2 separate regions of the Homo sapiens genome follow, and region 1 is linked to region 2. The links come from fine-mapping of genetic effects on gene expression. Tissue or cell type: subcutaneous fat. Region 2 holds a variant in brackets; the other region holds the start of a gene. All regions are shown on one strand. Distances are between the middles of the regions.

The links. PIP is the estimated chance that this variant, and not a neighbour inherited with it, causes the effect.
Region 1: CEACAM19 starts here. The variant in region 2 is fine-mapped to the expression of CEACAM19 in subcutaneous fat (GTEx, PIP 0.92). The same link has a PIP of 0.9 or more in fibroblasts, thyroid, tibial artery, tibial nerve and whole blood.

The regions. Positions count from the first base shown.
Region 1 is chr19:44,669,295-44,673,683 of GRCh38, forward strand. CEACAM19 (CEA cell adhesion molecule 19) reads left to right here and starts at 2,188. Exons shown (of 8, transcript NM_001127893.3): 1 at 2,188-2,692; 2 at 3,302-3,670. The coding sequence starts at 2,638.
Region 2 is chr19:44,611,286-44,615,674 of GRCh38, forward strand. It overlaps IGSF23 (immunoglobulin superfamily member 23), which reads left to right and starts at 2,278. Exons shown (of 5, transcript NM_001205280.2): 1 at 2,278-2,485. The coding sequence starts at 2,361. RefSeq lists an enhancer at 3,690-4,191. The variant T/TA (reference allele first, on the strand shown) is at 2,324.

The DNA.
Region 1 (4,389 bases), 58 kb after region 2:
TTTGTTTTGTGTAAAGTTGGGGTCCTACTATGTTGCCCAGCCTGGTCTCCAATTCCTAGGCTCAAGCAATCTTCCCACCTCAGCCTCTCAGAGGGGTAGGATTACAAGTGTGGGTCACCTGTGCCTCCCTAAATTTATATTTAAATAGCCACATATGACTAATAGCTATGATATTAAACAGCATAACACTAGACCCTCCATTATCCAAGCTCTGTTGATCCAACCAACAGAGCACATTTGATCTCTCCTACCTCCCAGCCTCACACACACAGGCCCCACACCCTCCTTCCTGGCTCCACTCACCCAAGATATTGCAACCTCCTCAATACACCTTGATGACTATCTCAGCCTCCACATCCTTGCATTGCTATTTATGCTGCCTGGTGCACCTCATGCTGCCTCACCCCATCATCTGCCTCATTTCTACTCTTACTCCAGGTCTCAGCTCAGATGCCCCCTCCCCCAGGAAGCCCTCCCTAGCCGTCAGGTTGAATGAGGTGTGTCTCCTTGGGCTCTCCCAGACTCCTGGGCTCCTCCATCCCAGCCCTGATCACTCTGGATCATAATTGTGTGAGAGGGGTCTGCCCCCCCAAACCCTACAGGATTGTGTGCCCTACTGTGGACAGAGGGCAGAGCAGAGGTGGTCTCAATCATCACTGTGTCACCAACATCACCCAGCACACACAACTGGGCACTGGGAATGTGTGCTGGAATGAATGGAGGATGCTTTTTAAAAACTAGGCTAAGCCAGGTATGGTGAGTCACATCTGTAATCCCAGTACTTTGGGAGGCTAAGGTGGGAGGATCACTTGAGCCCAGGAGTTCAACACCAGCCTGGGGCAACATAGTGAGATCCCATCTCTACAAAACATATAAAAATTGACCAGGGATGGTAGCACACAACTGTGGTCCCAGCTACTCAGGAGGCTGAGACGGGAGGATTGCTTGAGCCCAGGAGTTGGAGGCTGCAGTGAGCAATGATCATGCAACTATACTCCAGCCTGGGCAACAGAGCGAGACCCTGTCTTAAAAAAAAAAAAAAAGAATAACACACTTGGAATAAACATGATCCAAAAAAGTACAAAACATACACTCTGGGGCTGGGTGCAGTGGCTCATGCCTATACTCCTAGTACTTTGGGAGGCCGAGGCAGGAGGATCATCTGAGGTCAGGAGTTTGAGACCAGCCTGGCCAACATGGCAAAACCCCATCTCTACTAAAAATACAAAAATTAGCCAGGCATGGTGACGCATGCCTGTAATCCCAGCTACTCAGAAGGCTGAGGCAGAAGAATCACTTGAACCTGGGAGGCGGAGGTTGCAGTAAACTGAGATTGTGCCACTGTACTCCAGCCTGGGTGACACAGCATCTAAAAAAGAAACCAATCCAAAAACTACAAAATATTCTTGCAATTATAGGTGACATATTTAAATGGTAAGACAACCAATGTTCATGAATGGAAAGACAGAGCAAGACCCTGTCTCAAGAAAAAAAAAAAAAAAAAAAAAAAAAAAAAACAGGCTGAGCGCGGTGGCTCACACCTGTAATCCCAGCACTTTGGGAGGCCAAGGTGGGCAGATCACCTGAGGTCAGGAGTTCAAGACCAGCCTGACCAACATGGAGAAACCCTGTCTCTACTAAAACTACAAAAGTAGCCGGGCGTGGTGGCGCATGCCTGCATTTCCAGCTACTCCCTGAGGTGGGAGGATCGCTTGAACCCAGGTGGCAGAGGTTGCGGTGAACTGAGATTGCGCCATTGCACTCCAGCCTGGGCAACAAGAGCGAAACTCCATCTCAAAAGAAAAAAAAAGAAAAACACGAGGCTAAGAGCTTTTTTTTTTTTTTGAGACGAAGTCTCGCTCTGTCACCCAGGCTGGAATGCAGTGGCGCGATCTCGGCTCCCTGCAACCCCTGCCTCCCAAGTTCAAGTGATTCTCCTGCCTCAGCCTCTCCAGTTGCTGGGATTACAGGTGCCCACCACCACGCCTGACTAACTTTTGTATTTTTAGTAGAGACAGGGTTTCACCATGTTGGCCAGGCTGGTCTCAAATTCCTCACCTCGTGATCTACCCACCTTGGCCTCCCAAAATGCTGGGATTACAGGCGTGAGCCACCGCACCCAGCCTGCCTCAGAGCCTTCAAGTGAGTCAGCCACAGGTGAAATCCCACCTCTGTCTATTGGCAGACTTGCCTCTTTTCCTGGGCCTCTGTTTCCACATCTGTGCAATGGGAACAGTTATTTATGGTGGCTGCTGAATGAGGCAGTGTGTGTTTGAACAAACCCAGGGGAATTGTTCAAACAGAGGCTGTTATGACTATTGCTACAGTGACTGCTGTTGTAGTCACGCTGAGTGAGAAAAAGAGGTTGAAGAGGGTCAGGGGAGGAGTCCTGGGAAGTTCCCCAGTCACCCTGAAAAACTGGTTCAACCTCTGTCTGTGCTCCCATCCCAGGGAGTATAGGTGGAGCCTCCAGAGCCCATGGACAGGGCATGCTGGGGCTGGGCCAGCCCCAGCGGTGTCTCTAAGGCACCCCTGGGATCCCCACTGAGCTGGCCTACTTCAGACAGCCAGGGCCCACCCCTCTGGCCCCCTTAGTGTCCAGCTCGTGGCCCCTTGGCATTTCCACAAGACGCCAAGATGGAGATTCCCATGGGGACCCAGGGCTGCTTCTCAAAGAGCCTCCTGCTCTCAGGTAAGGAGGAAATAGACCCTAAAGGCCAAGGGGAGAAATGGGGACTCAGCCCAGAGATTGAAGTTTCCTCTTAGAAGTAGGGAAAGATTACCTGAGAGGATGAAATTAGAATAAGATGGGGGAGGGGCAACAGAATCACAGCCTCATTGCCATTTTATCTATGGAATTTTCTATAATGTTAGGACCATGAAGGCAGGAATTTATGTATGTTTGGTTCCCTGCTATATCTCCAGTGTCTAGAAATTGAAGGAAGTTTAGATGTATTACATATAGTTGGTATTATAGCTTATATATTACATATGCCTATAAGTATTGGTTGAATAAATGAATGAATGAATGAATTCAGAGAGTCCATGTGTTTAGAAGCAGGCCACACAGCATCTCAAGGTAGAAAAACCTCTGGATCAACAGGATGGCAAATCTGTGGTAACCATGCCTGTGTTCCCACTCCTGCACCCAGGGCAGACATCACTAATCAATCCCAGCATTGTTTCCAATGAGCAGCACTCAGAGTCCTTGCTCCCCGCTGAAGATCTGTATCTAGAGAGGAGCATGCCATGGTCCCTGGCAACACCCCTGATCTCAGCCCTTCCCTGTAACTTCCCACAGCCTCAATCCTGGTCCTCTGGATGCTCCAAGGCTCCCAGGCAGCTCTCTACATCCAGAAGATTCCAGAGCAGCCTCAAAAGAACCAGGACCTTCTCCTGTCAGTCCAGGGTGTCCCAGACACCTTCCAGGACTTCAACTGGTACCTGGGGGAGGAGACGTACGGAGGCACGAGGCTATTTACCTACATCCCTGGGATACAACGGCCTCAGAGGGATGGCAGTGCCATGGGACAGCGAGACATCGTGGGCTTCCCCAATGGTTCCATGCTGCTGCGCCGCGCCCAGCCTACAGACAGTGGCACCTACCAAGTAGCCATTACCATCAACTCTGAATGGACTATGAAGGCCAAGACTGAGGTCCAGGTAGCTGGTAAGTGTTAGGGTCTGGGGATGAGGTGAGGAAGCTAATGAGCCCTGAGCAGCTACCATGCACCAGGTGCTGTGCAAACACCATTTCATTTGGTCCTCTCATTTATTCACTTGACACATATTGAGCATCTACTGTGTACCAATCCCCAGAGATAGTCTTTAACCCTCACATGCATTAACTAATAAAATATCTATGAAATGCCCGCCTTGTGCCTGACACTGGAGAATGCACCATCTCATTTACCTTTCACATGCACTAACATTAACCAAATTTTTATCGAGCACTTACTGTATGCCTGGTTGTGAGGAATGCATCCCTCAATCTTTATGTTTATAAAGCGAGTATTTACTGATGAATCCACTCGGGGCAAAGTGTGAGGGAAAGGGTGGTGGGCAATAATGACAGCTGGCATTTCTTGGGTGATCGTTAAGAGCCAGGCACCATCTTAAACATTTTCCCTAAAGCATAGTTTCTCAGCTTCAGCACTACTGATGTTTTGTATTGGCCAGTTCTTACTAGTAGAGGGTTTGTGCATTGCAGAGATTTCAGCAGCACCCCGGCCTCTACTCACTAGGTACCAGTAGCAGCTTCCTAGTCATGCCAACCAAAAATGTCTTCAGATATTACCAAATGTCTCCACCCTGGGATAAGAATCACCCCTGGTTGAGAACCATTACTCTATATTTACTCATTTTTACCTTAAAACAACTCCATGAGGC
Region 2 (4,389 bases):
TGACTATGCTTTCACATGTGTTGGCCTCGTTTTTAGGCAATCTCTCTACTCATGATAGAAAGATGGCCCCCAGCAGCTGCACACTGAGATCTCTTCAGCTCAGCAAACCCGGAAGCAAGAAAAAATGCTTTTAGGCTGGGTGCGGTGTCTCACGCCTATAATCCCACCACTTTGGGAGGCCGAGGCAGGTGGGTCACTGGAGGCCAGGAGTTCAAGACCAGCCTGGGCAACATAGTGAAAGACTGTCTCTACTAAAAATATGAAAAAATTAGCTGGGCATGGTGGCACATGCCTGTAATCCCAGCTAATCCGGAGGCTGAGGCATGAGAATCTCTTAAACCCCAGAGGTGGAAGTTGCAGCGAGCAGAGATCACACCACTGCACTCCAGCTTGAGCAACACAGCAAGACTCTGTCTTTAAATAAATAAATAAAAATTTAAAAACAGAAAAAAGAAAAATTGCTTTATTCCCCAGAGTTCCAATAAAATCCGTAAGAGATTGCTTCTCCTTGGCCTGTTCTGAGTGCCACGCCCAGGTCTCCAAAAATCACTGTTGTCAGGGGATGAAGTGCTCTGATTGGCCAGTCCTGGGCCCCTCACCTCCCTGGAGCCATGAGGAGGCTGGTTTCCAAAAGAGAACTCCAGGTGCTGTTACCTGGATACAAGAGAGTACTGGCTGGGTAGAAACCCCAGAAACCTTACAACATAATGGTTATTAACTGCATCGTAAATATTTACTTTTTCCTACAGTGGTCTCCTGACCTAGCTAATCACTCCAGCAGAGGCCTTCAGACCAACTATAAAAAAGGCACTTTAGCAAATGCTAATAAAGAAATAACTGTGTCACCTGATAATGACTATTATTAGAGACTTATGGGTGAACCTTAGCCCCTGGGTGGAACCTGAACCTCTCTGGGAGGGAAAAGCATGAGCTTCTAAGTCAGAAAGATCTGAGTTCAAGTCTGAACACTCCCATTTCACTCACTTGCTCTTCATTCATTTATTCACTAAAAAGAAAACATGTAGGCTGGCTAGGTGGTTCATGCCTGTAATCCCAGCACTCTGGGAGGCTGAGGCAGGAGGATCACTTGAGCCCAGAAGTTTGAGACCAGCCTGGGTAATATAGTGAAACTCTATTTCTACAAAAAGAAAAAAAATTTAATTGGCTGGGAATGGTAGTGTGAGACTGTAGTCCCAGCTACTCAGGAGACTGAGGCAGGATTATTGCTTGAATCCAAAAGGTTGAAGCTGCAGTGAGCTATGACCGTGCCACTGCACTCCAGCCTGGCTGACAGAGTGAGACCCCGTCTCAAAAACAAAAACATGTATTGAGCACCTGTTATATGCAAGGCACTGTTCTAGTCACTAGGGACATAGCCACAAGCCAGACAACATCCCTGCCCTCCTGGATCTGATATTCAAGTCGGAGAGGTGGGACTAAGGAGGGAGAGACAGATAATACAAGTGGACAAATAAATAAATCATCTAAAATAGCGGTAAATGATGTAAAGAAAACAAAACAGTGTGGCTTGCTAGCAAAGAGGTGGGGAACTGAGTTGCAGCAGGCATTAAGAAAGGCCTTTTTGATAGAGTGATGTGTGTGAATTAAGCCAAAATAATAAGATACAGTCAGCTTTGAGATTACATGAGTAAGGTTCTAAGGAGAGGGAACGGCTCATGCAAAGCCCCTGAGCTGGTGCCTCCAAAAACTGGCAGAAAGCCCCTGTGAACGGTTGTGTGATGGTAGGTGAGTTACTTAGCCCCTGTGCACCACGAGAAAATGGGGATGCTCATATCTACCCCTCGAGGTTGCTATGAGGATTCAAATTAGGCAACCCTGTTACAAGGTTAATGCTGTGTCCGGCATATAGTAGGTGTTCAATAAACACCAGCTATTAGTTTGAGTAATATAATTATTAATTTGAGGAGGAAAGAATGGACCTGGGGAGTGAGAAGGGTGAGGAAAAAGTAGCTAGTGTAGCTTATCCTTCTAGAATCTAAAATTCAGGATATAGTCTGAGCAAGCTCCTGATAACGGGATTCTAAACATGCCTCCAGGACATCCTAGACACCAAATTATAATTAGCATTGACTTCATAGTGACTGCCATTCGTTGAGCGCCTACTACGTGACCAGGCACTACTCCAAGCACCTTGTGTCCACGGCCCTGTCTGACTCTGGGGCAGGCACTATTATTAACGCCTCCATTTTACAGAGGAGAAAAGCTGTGGTTCAGAGTCCAAAGCCCCGTCACCTCCTACCAGGTTGACCTTTGGCCATTCCTTGCCTTTGATGTGAGTGATAGGAGCGGGCGATTCTGCTTC[T/TA]CCCTCCATCTCCCGGCGGGGATTGTACGGTGAGAGAATGAGAGCAAAACCTCAGAGCCCCCTTCCCAGGAACCCTGTCCCAGCCTGGTCCCCACCCACCACCACCACTGACCCGATGCTAGAGAAGGATGCGGCTGGAGGTGACTTCCCAGCCAACTTGGTGTAAGTCATGTGGGGAAGTGGCCAGGGTAGGGCATGGTCATCGTGAGCAGGGTCCTGCAGGGTGAGGCCGGGGCTGCAGACGCGACTGTACAGGTCTATGAAGACCCCATGTGTGATGAGGAGACCTTCTCTGCACAGTCCCTGGACAGAACACGAGATGAGGGGTCCTCTGGACGTCAGCTCCAGCCACACCCCTACCTGGAGGAAGCTGCTTTTAACAGGTGCGTTGGAGACAGCGGCTTCACCACGGGCCAGGGACAAGGAGGAGAGTGTCTCCTTACGAGTCCAAGTCACCCCCACTCAGAGCTTTGACCCTGTCAGTTTGAGGCCCATGCAGCTCAGGCACCCAACTCATGAGAACTCTTGAAGGCCACTCCGCCACAAGAGATGACCCTATTGGCTTCTTTTAGGAAGAAGGGAAGTGAGGCGCAAAGAGGAGAACAGGTCACCTACCCAAGATCACAGGGCTGGCAAGGGGCAGGATCAGAATTTGGGACCCCAGCCCAGCCCCCTTCCACCAGAATGCCCTGTCTCACCCCTGCAATCCGCAACTTAGTAATAATACATATAAATAATAACAATCATAAAATAATAACAGCCGTAATAGAAGGTCACTGTAACTGAATAGATCTATATACCAGCCTGTTTGGGGTTTTTGTTTTTTTGTTTTGTTTTGTTTTGAGACAAGGTCTTGCTCTGTTGTCCAGGCTACAGTGCAGTGGCCCGATAATGACTCATTGCAGCTTCAACCTGCTGGGCTGAAGCTGTTCTCCTGCCTCAGCGTCCTGCGTAGCTGGGACCATAGGTATGCGCCACCAAACCCAGCTAATTTTTTATTTTTAGTAGAGATGAGGTCTTACTATGTTGCCCAGGCTAGTCTCGAACTCCTGGGCTCAAGCGATCCTCCTGCCTCGGCCTCCCCAAGTGCCAGGATTACAGGCGTGAGCCACTGCGCCCAGCCTGTCAGCCCGTTCTAAGTGCTTTCCTATAGTAACATTTACCTCTTATCACAACTCTTTGAGATCAGAGCTGTACGATCCCTATTTCACAGAAGGGGAAACTGAGGTTCAGAGAGGTCATGTGCCCTCTCCAGGTCACACACTTGGAAGTGGCAGACTGAAGATTTGAAGCCAGATGGGCTGGCTTCCCAGACCACACTTTCCAGAGACCACACACATCTGCCTCTCAGATAGTGAATGAATTGCTTCCTTATCCAGGTCTTAAAAGTTCACTTCTGAGTTGGGCGCGGTGACTCACACCTGTAATCCCAGCACTTTGGGAGGCCGAGGCAGGCGGATCACGAGGTCAGGAGATCGAGACCATCCTGGCTAACACGGTGAAACCCCGTCTCTACTAAAAATACAAAAAATTAGCCAGGCCTGGTGGCGGGCGCCTGTAGTCCCAGCTACTCAGAAGGCTGAGGCAGGAGAATGGCGTGAACCCGGGAGGCGGAGCTTGCAGTGAGCCAAGATCGTGCCACTGCACTCCAGCCTGGGCGACAGAGCACGACTCCGTCTCAAAAATAAATAAATAAAGTTCAGTTCTGAGCCGGGTGCAGTGGCTCACGGGTGCAGTGGCTGGGATTACAAAGTGCTGTAATCCCAGCACTTTGGGAGGCCAAGGCGGGCGGATCATCTGAGGTCAGGAATTCAAGACCAGCCTGACCAACATGGAGAAACCCCGTCTCTACTAAAAACAGAAAATTAGCTGGGCGTGGTGGTGCATGCCTGTAATCCCAGCTACTTGGGAGGCTGAGGCAGGAGAATTGCTTGAACCCAGGAGGCGGAGGTTGCGGTTAGCTGAGATGGTGCCATTGCACTCCAGCCTGAGCAACAAGAGCGAAACTCCATCTTTAAAAAAAAAAAAAAAAAGTTCAGTTCCATGTAATTTTAAAACCTCAAAGT